Homo sapiens: one gene and its partner. The protein of the gene in region 1 interacts with the protein of each later gene in a pairwise test. Each region holds a gene or a part of one and is shown on either strand. Other genes may lie near its edges.

Region 1 (9,300 bases):
GTATTAAGTTACACTGCCACCAGCAGAATATGAGAGTTCTAGTTCCTCTCTCACCCACACTTGGTTCTTTTCCGTTCTTTTCAGGCCATTCTGATAGCTGTCTAGTGTGACATCCGCTTATAATGTGAATTTGCATTTCCCCGATGGCTAATTAGCCTAAGGAATTTTTCTATAAAGTCTCTTAATCTTTAGATTATTCCACTCTATCTCACCTTTCCTGTGCAATTTATTTGTTGAAGAAACTGTGACCCCCCTATTTTCCATGAGAATTTCAATACAATAAGCCTATGGTTGTTGCAGGGTTACTGTATTTTACAGAAGGGCTAGGCTCATTGTGATTCTATGTGTGAACTCCAAGACAGTCACTGCCCAGGTTCATGAGACTGCTTCTAGACTAACCCTACAGCCCCGTCCAAGTGGGAGCATGGCAATTCAGAATTCTAAGCGGTTTCTTCTATCTTTTCTTACTGTTATAAAGGGAAGATAGAAATTTTCTTTCCAAACTCTTAAGAATGCTATGGAAGAGGCTCATAGCCCATCCTGGGAAGTCAGTACTAGAGGAGGCAATGAGGAGCAGAGGGGAATTCTAATTTCCACTGCTACTAATCAACTGTGCGACCTTGCGGACGTCACTTAACTTTTCAGAGCTTCAATTTTTCCTTTGAATAGTGGGATGGCAAACAAGTTTCATTTTTTTTTAAGTTTTTATTATTATTAATTTTTTATTTAATTTAATTTTTTTGAGAAGAAGTCTTGCTCTGTCGCCTGGGCTGAAGTGCAGTGGCGCAATCTCAGCTCACTGCAACCTCCACCTCCAGGGTTCAAGCAATTCTCCTTCTCAGCCTCCCCAGTAGCTGGGATTACAGGCGCCTACCACCACACCAGGCTACTCTTTGTATTTTTAGTAAGGACGGGGTTTCACCATGGTGGCCAGGCTGGTCTTGAACTCCTCACCTCAGGTGATCCACCCACCTCAGCCTCCCAAAGTGCTGGGATTACAGACGTGAGCCACTGTGCTTGGCCTCAAGTTTTGTTTTTTAGAGCTAACTCTAAGCAGTTGAGGGTTGTTACCCAGAGTGCTATAGAAGGGTTCTGAGGCCAAGTCTAAGCTCAGAGGAAAACAGTGCTGTGGTTAATTACTAGCATGGGAATAGCAGGATGGAGTGCTAGCATCTGGGCTAAGTGTTTGCCACCTATGGAAGATAATCTCTGAGGATCCTTTGGGCTCTGACATTCTACGTAGTATATGTATGGTACATTCTACTATTCAATCTGGTTTGGAAATGAGGCTTTTGCCTAATAACATATTCTAGTTAAAAGCAATTCCTAATTTTCAAAATAAGGAGATGATAGGGCACATTTAATAACATCGTAAACATAATTTAATCTTCTAAACGTAACAGTTTTGAAAGAAAGCACTAGAGGGTTCTGTAGTACTACCAGGTTATCATCACAAAGCAACAATCATCATACCAGGAAAACCTAAACATTTTGGTTAATGCAAAATTCTGAAGTCGCATGTCAAATGAGCTACTATCCTATTTGATGCTGGCTAAGAAATTATAGTGACCAGTTTGTGGCTTAAAGGGCATCCTAAGAAAAGAACAGCGTTCTGTGGTCAGCCAGTGATGACCAGCTACTACTATTTTCTAACAACAAATTGGTTTGCTCCTTGTGTCTTGGGAGATTTGTCAAGTCCACAGCAACTCCTCCTATGAAAACTGCTCTTCTTCTTCAGCCCATTCACAGGCATAGGGCTGTGGAACCATATTATTATGCTATCTTTGCACTTTGACCAAAGTTGGACCAAAAAGACTGTCTCTTCTGTGAATGTGGAATTAGGGCTGGTCTGTGTTCTTTAGTGTTCACCTGGCAGACATCTAAACCTGGGAGCTAGACATTCTCCACCACAAGCTATCTACAGTGAGATGTGGCACAGGAAAGGGAATGACTAGTTCCCTGAACTGCCTTCTGGTTCCAATTTTGGTGAGACTTGCCCCTACTTCCTACCTTTGGGTTTGGTGAGATATCCCTGAAATTTTACACATTATCATCTTTAAAGATACTCTTTTCTAGGTTAGGTTAACAAATATTTCCTCAGTGCCTCCCAGAGGGGCCATGCCACCCATGCAGGGTTAAGACATAGGCAGATGATGATGAAAAGAAGGAAGAAAAAAGGCAGATGTCAAAGTAAGAGAATATAAACAAGAGGAAAAGAGAGAATGAGGAATAGGAAACAGTAAAAGGGAAAAAGAGCCTGAGAAAAGAAACAGAACAAAAAAGAAGCCAAAAATAAGTAAGAGATGGGTGGTATGGATGGAATGATGACCCACTTGCTCCGAAGTTGGAACTGTTAATTTGACCTTAATATGGAATCGGGAGAATAAGTATGGTACACACAGTCATAAAAGAATGAGGTAACTCTACATGTACTGATACGTCCATAGATATTAATATTAAATGAAAAAAGCAGAGCGCAGAACAACATGTGCAGTATAACCCTACTTTTGTAAAACAAACAAGCCAGTAATCCAAAAACCTGGTCAAATAAAATCCAAATACACTCAACTGTTAGGAGTGGTGACCTCTGGGGGAATATGATTTGAAGTTACGGGGAGGGTTTTCACTTCTAACTTTACCACTTCAAGATTATTTCAAGTTTTTACAGCAAGCATGTTTTACGTTTTTTTATAATTATTAATAAAAGAGAAAACTCAGTAAGAAAAACAAGTTTAAAAAAAAAGTTACCTTGGCGCGGGCCTCGCGGGACGCTTCTGCTTCTGCAGCCATAGCTCTCTGGAGCTGCACAGGTAGTTTCACATCCTTAATTTCCACACGCTCCACCTTTATTCCCCAGGCATCAGTGGCATCATCCAGAGTAGACTGTTAGGAAGAGAGAAGGCAAGCTAAATCTCCTCAGCCCAGCCCAGATGCTGACAGAGGCTGTATTCATTGGGATTTGGAGGAGATAAGGTGCTGGGGAGAGTTGTGGAGAGACAGTTACCCCACGGTGGAACGAATGGTGACGCAGGGGCTGGCTCACTGATCCTGATTCTGTTGCTAACAAGCTAATGCAGGGGTTAGCAGCTTCTTCTAAAAGGGCCATATAGTGATTGTTTATTTGTAGTCTCTGTCTCAACTATTTAACCCAGCTGTTGTAGTCAAAAGCAGCCATGGATAATATATAAATAAATGGCTGTGGCTATACTCCAGTCAAACTTTACTTACAAAAACTACAGCCTGTAGGCTACAGTTTGCCAACTCCTGAGCTAATGTGACTCTGTGTAAGTCATATTACTCCTTTGTGCTTCAACTTCCTCCCTTTAGAATGTCAGGAATGAAACCACACATCTATTTCATAGGTTGTTGTGCATATCAAATACAATCATAGATTTTACCCACGATGAAGTCTATACAAATAATAAGAATCCAGAGTTATAGCACTTTATCTTTTTTGAATAAGCTATGCTTAACTGAATATCTGTTACTCAAGAAAGACTGGAAAGCACAACAGTTATAATTCATGGGACTCACACACAGAATAAAGCTTTAGGAATACCTACACTATCTTGCAGAATAGCCTCTGTTCTAAACAAAAAGGTTATTACTGATTCTGGAAAAAAATACACACTGAAGAAAATTTTAAAAAAATGTACGCATGAGTGTTATGAACTCATGAACTGCTAATGTGAAAAATGTCCCCTCCTGCCAAATTTGAAAAATTTTACTATGAAGAAAAAAAAACGGTCACAGACCCCCACAACTTGAATTAATAAAAGGTTCTCAAACAACCATTGACTCTTTGCTTCATTTTTCAGCTTCTGGGGGGTAACAGCATTGACGTACTCCCCACCTGCATGTTGTGTGCAATTTCTTCTCTGTCAGAGAGGATCTGAGAAAGATTCTTGGTGCCCAGAACATTCCTCAGAGTAGTTTGTGCCAAAAGACGGGTTGCTGAGTCAGCGTTGGTGATATTTGCCACAGCCAGGGTTGCATTCTGAACGCGGTAATAGACCACACCATCCACGCTAATTGTCACTGAATCCTTTGTGAGGATCTACAAGATGAAGGAAGCAATTTTACATCTGTCAACGACTTTTTTTTAACATAACTGTAAGGAATGTTATTCTACAGAATATCTTATAACACTAGCTGATTTTCTTTAGTAAGGCATCAGAAAGTTAATTATATCTTTTAAAATTTAATAAAATAAATTATTCAAGTCCATTAATTCATTCAATCATACAAATAATATTGAGATATCACTCAACAGCAGGCACTGTACTAGGTACCAGGGATTAAGGTAGGAAAAAAACTTGGTTCCTCCTTTGAAGGAGGTTAGGGAATCAAAGGAAACTCTTAGGGGCAGCTGTGGGTGGCAGGGGTGATACCTGAATTGAATCTTGAAGAAAGGAATACAATTTTTCTGAGGGTGTTGGGTGGAGTGGAAGAATATTCAAGAGAGAGGCACTAGAGAGTCAAGGTTTGATAAACTACAAGTTCCACAATATTACTGGAACAAAAAGTGCATGGGGAATGTTTTTAAAGGGCAAGGTCAGCATCAAAACATATTTTACAGCATGCTACATAAAAATGCTAAACATGACATATTTTTGTTTTAAGCTAAGAAGTTATCTGAGTGAGAGGCTCCAGGAAAATAGTTACATCCATCACTTAAAACTCACTGGGACTCAGTTTTCTCATTTGTAAAGTAGAGATTAATTATAGTACCTACTTTGCATTCTTGCTAGAATTAATGCGTTAAATACATTCAAGTGCTCAGAAAAGTTCCTGGCACGTAAGAGCTGTCTTATTATTTCATCTTGGATAATGGTGGTAACTTTACTGAATAAAACACTGACTTGATTAACTGTAATAAGTTAATTTAGATAATAATAAACAAGCCAGCTGGGCATGATGGCATACACCTGTAGTTTCAGCCACTCAGGAGGCTGAGGCAGGAAGATTGCTCCAGCCTGGGAATTCCAGCCTCTCTCACTAACAACATCAGGCTGGCACCTTTCTACTGATCATTTAAATGTCCTTCTCTCTGTGAAACTTTCTTGGCTTACTTGGCAGAGTTAAGCACTCTTCCCTTGCACATCCACTGCACCTTACTGTAGTGACATTATTTATTCACATTTCTACTTCTCTCTTAGACTATGAATTTCTTCAGGGCAATTCTTTGTAACTCTAACACTGGCAGAGTGCTTGAAACATAGCGGGTAGTCAATAAATGAGAGAGGAGCTGAACTGAAATGTGGTCCTGAGAACAGTGACCGATGAGGAACACAGCAGTGAGAGTTAGGAGACCTGAACTGAGTCCCATCTCTGCCTTCAGGTCCCTGGATGGCCTCTAGCAAGGTTTTTAACCCATTTGACCAACAGATTCCTCATTTGTGAGATGGCGCTAATAATACTGCCTAATTCTATCCAAATTTCTGTGAAGATCAAATAAGAACATACTTGTGAATGAAGCCCTTTTGAAAGAGTAAACAGCTATGAAAATGGAAGGTAATAATAACAATGTTGTAACATGGCTGTTTAGCCCTGCCAGACATCAAAGCAGTGATCCTTTTTTAGTAATCTCAAAATACTTCTAACATGGAAGAGAAGTGGAGGATTTATAAATAAATGTACAGTGTATTACCATCTTGTATGAAAACTAATTATTTCCCATGACATGATGGGAAAATGTGTGTCATTCCCAAATTCTTGCCACTTTGACTTTGCCACAGCTTCTTTCTAAAGCTACAGCTTCTCTGCCTACTGTTTATCATCGGCAAGGGTTTATCTCCCTTCACAGAAACTTCACAGGGGATCAGAAAAAGGATTGCTGCCAAGTTCCAATCTGCTTTGCATTCAGCAGCTTGCAGAATAGGAGAGGGCCACTGGAAAGCAGAAGCTTAAACAGCAACTCTGCCAGATGTCTGTAATGTTTATAGTGGAAAATGCCAGAATGTCCAGCTACCCTGAAGGGCTCCTTCTGAGACTCAATCTTCCTTAGACGATGGGAAAACACACAGAGAATACAGTGATACTCTCAGTCTTGTTCTTATGAGTAAAATGTGGGCAAAATGATTCCTGGCATCACTAACTTTGGGTGGATTATAAAGTCTGACCCCACCCACTTCTTGGATCAGTACCAACAAGGAAGTTCCTAAGCTGGTTTCTGGTATTTGTGACATGAGAAGGCAACATGGCCAGGCTCCATCACCATGCTGAGTATCTGGCCTTTGGCCAGGAAACACTGACAGCATTCTTCTGTCCTTCCCCCTTCATGATGTTTTCAGGTTTTCTGTATGCAACGGTTATTAAGTCTCCTAAGGACATGGTTCCCAGGATGGCCATCACTTTTTCGGGGGCTATGAGGGAGCTCATGTACAATGCATTTAGCATGGAGCTGTGGAAAAAACAGCACTATACAAAGAATCCGAAGAGCTCAATTTTAGTCTTGGCTCTGCCACTGTAATCTGGAGGAATTCCTTTGTTTCACTGCAACTATATACTTTCTAGGGATTCTGCCATGAGTTTCATCTATGATAATACTTGTGAAGTAGTTTGAAAAGGCACAAAATAATCACTAGTATAAAATATTATGTTTTATCTAAAATGCCCAACAAGCAGTTTCTAATTCTTTGGTTTCTAACCAATTTATCTAGAATAAAACCTTAAGAAAAAAAATAATGAACTAATAGGGTTTTCTATCAGAAACCCATAGAAGAGAAATGTGGTAGTAAAAATGTTGATAGTAATAACAATGATGATATTATTATACTTACATTAGCATTACACTATGTTTTGTAATAATCATTCCTCGGTATCTGTGGGAGATTGATTCTAGGACCCTCAGAGGATACCAAAATCCAAGGATGCTCAAGTCTCTTATATACAGTGGCACAATATTTGCATATAACTTATGCACATCCTCCTTTATACATTAAATCCTTTCTGAAGTACTTATAATACTTAACACAATGTAAATACTACATAAATAGTTGCTATACTACACCGTTTTTAAAAATTTGTATTATTGTATCATTGTCAATTGCTTTTTTCCCTAAATATTTTTGATCCATGGAGCCAACCGTATAATCTATGTACATTTTCCTGTACACTTTAAATCATCTCTAGATTACTTCTATTATCCAATACAATACCTACACATCACTTTATTCATGTGGATTCAATGCCATGCTTGATGCATGGCAAATTCAAGTTTTGCTTTTTGGAACTTTGTGGAGTTTTTTCCTAATATTTTCAGTCTGCGGTTGGCTGAATCCCTGTATGCAAAACCCATGCATGCAAAGGGCCAACTGTAATAGTAACAGTAAGAACTTATATAGCACTTACTATTTGTCAGCCATTGCTCTAAGCACTTGGCACATATATCTCACTTCTCAGAACCACCTTATACAGTAGTTCTTACTATTACAAATGTCTATTTTCTGGATGAGGAAACTGAGGCACAGAAAAGTTAAAGAACTTGCTTAAGGTCACTGAGCTAGAAATGCTGAAGGCAGTCAAGGTCTAAAGCCTGTGCTCTGGCAGGGAACGGTGGCTCATGCCTGTAATCCCAGCACTTTAGGAGGCCAGAACGGATCACCTGAGGTCAGGAGTTCGAGACCAGCCTGGCCAACATGGCAAAATCCCGTGTCTACTAAAAATACAAAAAAATTAGCCGGGCGTGGTGGCGCACATCTATAGTCTCAGCTACTCGGGAGGCTGAGGCACGAGAATCACTTGAACCCAGGCGGCGGAGGTTGCAGTGAGCTGAGATCACACTACTGCACTTCAGCCTGGGTGACAGAGCAAGATTCCAATTAAAACAAACAAACAAACAAACAAAAATTTAAAATAAATAAATAAATAAAGCCTACACTCTAACTATTCTGTCCCTCATTGTAAAGCACTTTCACATATGATACCTCAGTTATTCAAAGAAAACCTTACCTCCTGAGGAGGAATATCAAATGAAATAGTTCTCATGTCCACTTTGATGAAGCTGTCAGTGCATGGCAGAATAAAAAACAAACCTGCAACAAAGATACACACATTATACAGACACCAGCAACCTAATCAGTTCACTTCTCCATTCAGTTTTAAGAAAATCAACCTAGTGAACTGAAAAGTCACCAGTTCATCTTCGTGAATGAGCCAGAAGCCAGGAATGATAACTTTGATTCCTCTTGCTTACTTCCCACATTTGACTGTCTCCACTAAGGTCTGTGGAGTTCATTTCCTTAATCTACTGTTGCTATCACTCTTCTCCCCACCGCCCCACTGGGACCAATGCAATCGTTTCCCAGGCCATCTTTCTATTTTTTGTAGTTTCTCTCCTATAATCTATTTCCTAAGCTGCAAGCCGAGCAATCCCCCCTAAAATACAAACCCTCCCCCACGCATGGTCCTGCATAACCCGCCTTTGTTCCCCTCTTCAGCCACTTCCTCTCTCTTCACACCCTGCACTCTTGCTGGACTGATCTACTTGCAGTTTCTTGAATCTGCAATACTCTCCTCTTTGTTGCTTTGTGTATGTTGCTATTTCCGCCGCAAACACCTCCTGTTGGTTAACACCTTTTCAGACCTCAAGACTCAGTCAAGATGTAACTTCCAGAAAGCCTTGACTCAGCCTACGACTAGTTCAGATCAGTAACACTTCTCTGGTTTTCTCTTTTCTCACAGCTCTCTGTGAGTACTTGATCATAATACTTATCACATAGGATTGTAGCTATCTGTTTCCTTGTTGGTTCCTACCACTAGATAGGAAGATCCTTGAGGGTAGGGACTGTGTTTTAGTCTCCCTTGAATTCCCAGAACCTGGAACACAGTAGGAGCTTAATTGAAGTTTGCCAAATGAATGACTGAAAGTCTTTCTTTGGTAGAGATTCTCATGCTCAAACTTGTATAGCTGTACTGTTCTTGGCCTAGGTGGTAATCTTATCAGCTCAAATGGGAAGGGGAGGGGAAGGGTAGGAAGGAAAGGGTAACAAAAGATTGGCTAGAACCACTGCTATTGTTATACAACTCCTGCTACATGAACTCTTATCTAAGACAGAGTAGAAGAGGCCCTCATAAGGGAAATCACGTCAATAAAAAAATTTTAGACTGGGCACGGTGGCTCACGTCTGTAATCCTAGTGCTTTGGGAAGCTGGGGTGGGATGATTGCTTGAGGTCAGGAGTTCAAGGCTGCAGTGAGACATGAGCATGCCACTGTACTCCAGCCTGGGCGACGGAATGAAACCCTGTCTTTAAAAAAACAACTACCTAAAAATAAAAAAAATAAAAAGAACTTTAGT
Region 2 (8,150 bases), on another chromosome or scaffold:
AAAAATATTTAGAACTACATGAAAATAATGCAAATTATCAGAATTTGTGGAACAAAGAGAAAGGGCTTGAGGAAATTGAATGCATCTAATAGTAAAGAAGAGAGATCTCAAATGAGTAACCTAAGTTTCCACCTTAGGAAACTAGAAAAAGAAGAGCAATTAAATCTAAAGTAAGCAGAAGAAAAGAAATAATAAAATCAGAGTCAAAATCAATGAAATTAGAAAAAAAATCAATAGAAAAAAATCAACAAAACCAAAAGCTGGTTTTTAAAAGCACTGATAAAATTAATGAACCTCTAGCCAGGTTAGGAAAAAAAAGAGAGGATACAAATTATTAATACTGGAAACTTAAGAAGGGTAATCATTAATAATCCCATAGCTATTAAAAGGAAAAAGGGATATTATGAACAACTCTATGTCCCTAAATTTGATAATCTAGATGAAATGAGCCAATTCCTTGAAAGACAAAATCTAGCAAAACACACAAAGAGAAATCGATGATACGAATAGTCCTAAATCTGTTAAAAGAAATTAAACCAGTATTTAGTAACTTTCCAAATCAGAAAGCATGAGGTCCAGAGGGTTCACTACCAAACATTCAAGGGAAAAATTATACCAATTCTCAACAATTTCTTTCAGAAAATGAAAGCACAGAAAATACTTTCCAATTCATTCGAAGAGGGCAGCATTACCCTAACATCACAACAAAGACATTACAAGTAAGGACAACAAAGATCAACATTTCTCATAAACATACATGAAATAAGTCTCAATAAAATACTAGCAAGTCAAATCCAACACTATGTAAAAGGAATTTACGTCGCAGCTAAGTGGGATTTATTCCACATACACAAGGCTGGTTCAACATTTGAAAATCAATTAATGTAATCCATAACATAAACAGGCTAATGAACAAAAATCATATAATCAGATCAATAGAGGCAGAAAAAATATTTAACAAAATCTAATGATTATTTATAAGGAAAATTCTCAGAAAACTAAGAATGAAGGGGAACTTCCTTGACTTGATCAAAACACCTACAAAAAAAAAAAACCTATAGCTAACAAAACACTTAATGGTGACAGCATAGATTTCTTTCCCAGTACAAAAAAAAAAGAATGTCCTTTCTCATCACTCCTGTATAACATTGTACTGGAAGTCTTGGCTAATGAAGACAAGAAAATAAAATAAAGAAAACATATTCAGATTGGAAAGAAAGCAATAATTTTTCCTTTTTTTTTTGCAGATGACATGCTGACATGCTTATTTATGTAAGTAATCTCAAAAAATCAACAACTACAGCAATGAAAATCTCTGGATAATAAGTGACTATAACAAAGTTGCAGGATGCAAGGTTAATATAAAAAGTTAACGGTTTTCTTATTATACCAGCAATGCACAATTGCAATATGAAATTAAAAACACAATACCATTTATGTTAGCACCAAAAAAGGTAAATTAATCTAAATCTGACACAATATGTACAAGATATATTTTTTTTAAAAAACCCTCCAAGACCCTGACAAAATAAACAAGAATTAAATAAATGGAGAGATATCCTATGTACCAGAATAGGATGACTCAGTATTATCAATATATTAGTTCTTCCCAAATTGATCTTCCATTACATGCAATCCCAATCAAAATCTTGGAAGTTATTTTGTGGATATCAAAAAGTAGTTCCAAAGTTTATATGAAAAAGCAAAAGATTCACTGCAGACAACACATAGGAAGAAAAAAAATAGGAAGACTGACACTTCTCTGCTTTACAATTTACTATAAAACTACATTACTCAAAACATTGTGTTACTAACAAATAATAGATAGTAAAATAGAATAAAAATTGAAGGCATAGAACAGACTCATATCAACATAGTCAATTGATCTTTGTCAAAAAAGCATAGGTAACTCAATAGAGAAAAGATATTCTTTACAATAAATGGTGCTGGAACAACTGAACATATAATAATCTTTTTTAAAAAGAATGCAGACATAGACCCTATACCTTTCACCAAAAAACCTCAAAATGAATGATAGACCTAAATATAATAAACAAAATTATGCAACTCGTAGAAGAAAATATAAGAGAAAAATTGAGTTGACTTTGGGTTTAGTGATATTTTTAAACAACACCAAAAAAAAAAGATCCTTGAAAAAATATTGAGAAGTTGGACTTCATTAAAATTAAAAATATTTTCTCTGTGAACAACACCATCAAGAAAATGAAAACACAAATCATAGACTGTCAAAAATATTTGCAAAACACATATCTGATAAAGGACTGGTATCCAAAATATACAAATAACTCTTAAAATTCAACAATAAGAAAACAACTCAATTAAAAAATAGACAAAACATCTGAATAGACACCTTATCAAATAATATATACAGATGGCAAGCAAGTGTATGAAAAGATGTTCAGCATCACATGTCATTAAGGAATCGCAATTTAAAACAATGAGATACCATTACACACCTATTCGAATGGCAAAACTCCAAAATACTGACAACAAATCCCAGTGATGTGACAAAATAGAACTTCCACTAATTGCTGGTGGCATTGCAAAGTGGCACAGCCATTCTGGAAGACAGCTGGGCAGTTTCTTACAAAACTAAACATACTCTTGCTATACCATACAGCAATTGCACTACTTGATATTAACCCAAATGACTTGAAAACCTATGTTCACAAAAAATTACACACATAAACTTTTATAGCAGCTTTATTCAAAATTGCCAAAACTTGATAGCAACCAAGATGTACTTCAGTAGGTGAATGAACAAACTATAGTACCACAAAATGGAATATTATTCAGTGATAAAAAGAAATAAGCTACCAAGTCACAAACAGACATGGAACAAACTTAAATGCGTATTGCAAAGTGAAATAAGTCAACCAGAAAAAGCTACATATATAATTCTAACTATATAACATTTTTTAAAAAGGCAAAACTTTGGGGACAGTCAGTAAAATGGTCAGTAGTTGCCAGGGGTTCTCAGGGAGAGAGGGAAGGATGAGTAAATAGAGTAGAAGGGATACTTAGGGGAGTAAAACTACTCTGTATGATACCGTAATTGTGGATCCATGTCATTATTCATTTGTCAAACCAATAGAATGTACAATACAAAGGATGAATCCTAATGTAAACTATAGTCTTTATTAACAGTAATATATCAATATTAGCTCATCAATTGTAACCAATGTACCTGCTGCACACTGAATTGTGTTCCTCCAAAATTCAAATGTTGAAACTCTAACCTCCATTTTGAATATGGGAAATTTCTAATGTAATCAGGTCATGAGAGTGGAGCCCTTGTGATAGGATTGGTGACCTTATAAGAAGAGACATAGAGTGCTCTCTTTTTTTCTCTCTCTCCCCCACCATGTGAGGACACAGCAAGAAGATGGCCATCTTTAAGACAAGAAGACAACCTTCATCACGAACTAAATCAAGACACACCTTGAATTTGGACTTTCCAGCCTCCAGAACTGTGGAAATAAATTTCTCATTTAAATTCCCAAACTATGGTATTTATTTTTATAACAGTTAGTCTTCGGCAATTCAAGCTGCTATAACAAAGTACCAGAAGCTGGATGGCTTAAAAAACAACAGAAATCTATTTCTCACAGTTCTAGAGGCTGGAAGTCTGAGACCAGGGTACCAGCATAGTCACATTCTGGTGGGTTCTCTCTTCTGGCTTGCAGACTGCTGACTTCACATTGTATCCTCAAATGGCAGAAAAAGAGTGAGAGGAAGCTCTCATGGCGCACTAATCCCATCTATGAGAACTGCATCATCACGACATAATTACCTCCCAAAGGCCCCATGCCTCCTAAAAACATTACACTCATGGTTAGAATTTCGATACATAAATTTGGGGAGGGGAACACAATTTGAACTGTGTTATGCACTCAATGTTTGTGTATGTAACTATGAAATGTTTGTTTATGAAACTATCACATGAATGCAAGATGTTAATAATAGGAAAAAACTATATGTTGGAGACAGGGAGTATACAGGAACTCAGTACTTTCACTCATTTTTTCTGAAAATTTAAAAATTGATCTGAAAAATCAAGTCTATTAAAAAAAGAAAAACACTGCAAAAATGCACAAACAAAATGAAAAGATTCTATGTAATGCTCACTTCAGCAATACAGTACGGAATATTAAGAAAACAATGTATTTACACAACCCCACACACATTCAAACAAATTGCATGAATCTTTTGCTTAATCTGGACTTCAAAGAAGTAGGCAATAAAAAGCTGCAAATCACTCTTCAGTGGACTTGCTAATTTCATATGGCACAAATCAGAATGAAGTATCAAGGATAAAATATACTCATTTGTGAAGTCAAATGGAAAAAAAAACAATCATCACATTACTTTGTTCATAAACAACAGTGGTAGTCTTCTGGGCATCTCCTGGTCAGCTGTGGATCCCAAGAAGGCAGCAACTGATGAGAATGATTAATTCTAAAGACAAGCATTATGTTGTTTGGTAATTTAAGTACTATTGAAAGGCATCTTAATTTGGAAGAAACTTAGTAATACACAAATGCTTCATTTAAGACCCTCTGAGGTAAAATTAAACAAATACTACTTTCAATATATTTCTGTGAGTTTATGTCATGATGTTTTAGACTACAATTTAAAATAAAACAAGCATAAATTTGAAACCTAAGCTGTTGCTTTAATAGTTTATTTCTTCTCCAGTACGTCATTCTAATTACTGCTTGCGCAAGTTAATACCTGTATCAAAATAACGCCAAAGAAAGCACTCTTGGAACAACTTTTCGGTATTATTGCTAGTATAAAAAATGTACAACACAGATGTCAAAGAATGTTGATAACAGTGGAAACAAAAGTAAACAAATAAAAACAAAAATAAAATTTTAAAGGACAAATGTTCTGAAAAACAAAAATATTTACATAATTCATATCCCACATTTGAAATTGAACTTGAATTTTTATCATTATGAGAAGCCCCTTAGTCTTCTATCACTGTTGTAATGGCAGATCTATTTTTATACTAGTTACTGTCTTGATAAAATGTGGAAATATATGACTTATCCTATATATATAATTGCATTACTAATCACACAAGAATGCTAGAACACTGCTTGGTCTAAACTATGCAATTTTGAAAACCTCCCAGTGAAATTAAAAATTTCTTACATGAAACTTCTAAAAACCTAAATTATAAACCTCGTTGCCATTTTCGCTTTGTAGAAAATCATAAAGAAGCTTTATAAAGTTGCACTATAAAATATTTTAGGTGAATCAAATTCAAGCATCAAAGGTCTCCTACCTTAACATAGCATTTTGTCCATCACTTCTTGTACACGAAACCTGCCGGGTTTGATAACCTATCTCTATTGCCCAAGACTTCGAATGATGATGTGCTTTGTAACTTTGATGTTTAAAGGTGACTCGCTCATTTGAATCAGAGTTAAAATCCAGAACAGTTCTTCCGCTTGGATTAATTTCTTTAAGATGAGGCAGTCTGCATTTACTCCATGGTCCAACCTTAAGGCTAAATGTATATTCCTCTTCCCCAAGAGGACAGGAAATGGGAGCATCACAGGCTCTTGACTCAGTCAGATTTGGACATTGCAAACCACCAAAGAGAGGGGGAGCTATGACCGCGCGAGTTCTATGCTGCAATTTCTTCCCACATCCCTTGCTACAGTTGGACCATGGTAAGAACTCAGATACTACACAATCCCGGGGACAAGGAATGAGGCAAGCCTGTTCTGTAGGAGGCTGAAGGGCAAAGTGTTCGCATATTTCATTTGCAACCACAGTTCGGTTCAGCTTCTGAATGCAGCGCACCATCCGGTGCTGCAGTCCATGCTGAGCCGTCACACACTCTGCAGTCCGAGGCTTGACTTCACCGCGAGCGTAAGGAACAAGCACACAGTGGTGCCAGTCAGAAACCTCCCACTGAAAGAGGTCACTGTGCCAGTCACAAACTCGGAAACAACTTCTTTCCTTTGGAGGCCTGTTGCTCTCACCACAGTTAGACAGGTGACTTGTCCACCCGTCAACATGAAAACACCACACTGCCCGACTCTGGACTCCTCCGGGACCACAGTCTCCTGTACACCTTCCCCACGGACCTACAGGCAGAAAAACAAGGATGTTAATTACTCAGAGATTACATTCAGCAATTCACAGGTAAGTAGAAGTCAATTAACACACTTTCCAACACAAGCAGTATGAAATTAGGAATTTTGGTGGAACAGAGACAACATAATTTAGTGGTTCAGAATGTGGACACTCTTGTTGAAATAAGCATTCCATCAGTAATGTAAACTTGGATGAATTATTTCAACTTTCTAAGCCTTAGAAAGTTCCTCACCTATATAAGGTAGAAGATAATAAAAGCACCGACTTGTAGAATTGCTCTGAAGATAAATGATACAATGTGTCAAGTAGACAATACAAATTTAATAAATGATTGGTACCATTATAACTACTACGTTCCAAAGCCTATACATCTAACTCAATATTAATACTTTCCACTGAGGTGGTGTTTCATTCAAAAGAAAAGCCCTAAAGCCAGGATTTTAATAAAGTAGAATTTTTCATATTTCCAGTCTTTCAGCTCAAACTCTAAGAAGCTCAGAAGAGAGATATGTTTAACACCCTAAGTTGCCAAAGTATCCTATTTTCATTTTCAAAATAATTGTCCTCAGTTTTGGTTAGTACTTGCAGAGAGAATTGCATGAAAATAACAATGGGGTGCAGGGGAAAGGTAAGGTAATAAGAGAAGCAGCAGCACTGAATTGTCTGTGGAAATTCTGCCCCTAGAATCCTTGAAGTGTACTCATTTTGATTTCTGATGGGTACTGATCCAGGTACAGTTTCCAACATTAGCTTGTAATATGCCAGATCTTTTAATTAACTAATTCATTTGTGTAGGTAAGAGTCCAAGAAATGGACAGATGAGGGAGCTGCCCATTGACGTTTATCATATTTTTTGCATCTCATCTACAGACATACCAGCAGGCCTTATCCAGAAAGTTGGTATCTTTTCACAAGGACAGTAAGTAATCACATTTTGTGTCAACAACAATGAAAAAAATAGTTTCTTCTCTTTCATTTTATTTAAATATGTAATCTGAACCTGTTGGTGGGAGTGTAAATTAGTTCAACCATAGTGAAAGACAGTGTGGTGATTCCTCAAGGATCTAGAACCAGAAATACCATTCAACCCAGCAATCTCATTACTGGGTATAAAGGATTGATCCCAAAGGATTATAAATCATTCTACTATAAAGACACATGCACACGTATGTTTATTGCAGCACTATTCACAATAGCAAAGACTTGGAACCAACCCAAATGCCCATCAATTATAGACCGGATAAAGAAAATGTGGCACACGTACACCATGGAATACTATGCAGCCATAAAAAAGAATGAGTTCATGTCCTTCACAGGGACGTGGATGAAGCTGGAAACCATCATCCTCAGCAAACGAACACAGGAATAGAAAACCAAACACTGCATGTTCTCACTCATAAGTGGGAGTTGAACAATGAGAACACATGGACACAGGGAGGGGAATATCACCCACCAGGGCCTGTCGTGGTATGGGGGGCAAGGGTGGGGAGAGCATTAAGACGAATACCTAATGCATGCGGGGCTTAAAACCTAGATGATGGGTTGACAGGTGCAGCAAACCACCATGGCACATGTATACCTATGTAACAAACCTGCATGTTCAGCACACATATCCCAGAACTTAAAATTAAAAAAAAAAAAAAGTTTTATCAGCTTAACTAGGTACCTTTGCCCCTGTCTCAGGACTGTGATGATCATAAGGCACTTCAGACCCTAAGAGGCATATGAATTTACACAAGCTCTCTCTCTTTCCCTGAATCTGACCAGCTTCCCCAAATGATGTTTAATTACTCCATGAAAAATATTTTCATTAGCATCCACTACATTTGTACAAATAGTAGACATGTACGTAATCACATGCATTTAGGAAGAAACATATACATCCCCAGAGAAGCAGGTTATCTGCACTGGGGCCACACACTAAAATGAGGATCTGTCACTTTAGTAGGACAAAAGGGTCCGGTTCTAATGCAACTAATCATCTCAATTCTTCCTCACATCCCTGTTCTAGCCAT

Evidence for each region. The genes of interacting proteins can lie anywhere in the genome.
Region 2: the proteins of STOM (region 1) and THSD7B interact in binary tests that used the Homo sapiens proteins (3 or more experiments, as listed by UniProt).

The regions. Positions count from the first base shown.
Region 1 is NC_000009.12:121,345,267-121,354,566, forward strand, and holds part of STOM (stomatin), read right to left. Parts: intron 8,037-9,300; coding exon 7,954-8,036; intron 4,058-7,953; coding exon 3,854-4,057; intron 2,884-3,853; coding exon 2,749-2,883; intron 1-2,748. UniProt on the Homo sapiens protein: Regulates ion channel activity and transmembrane ion transport. Regulates ASIC2 and ASIC3 channel activity.
Region 2 is NC_000002.12:137,054,395-137,062,544, reverse strand, and holds part of THSD7B (thrombospondin type-1 domain-containing protein 7B precursor), read right to left. Parts: intron 6,126-8,150; coding exon 5,315-6,125; intron 1-5,314.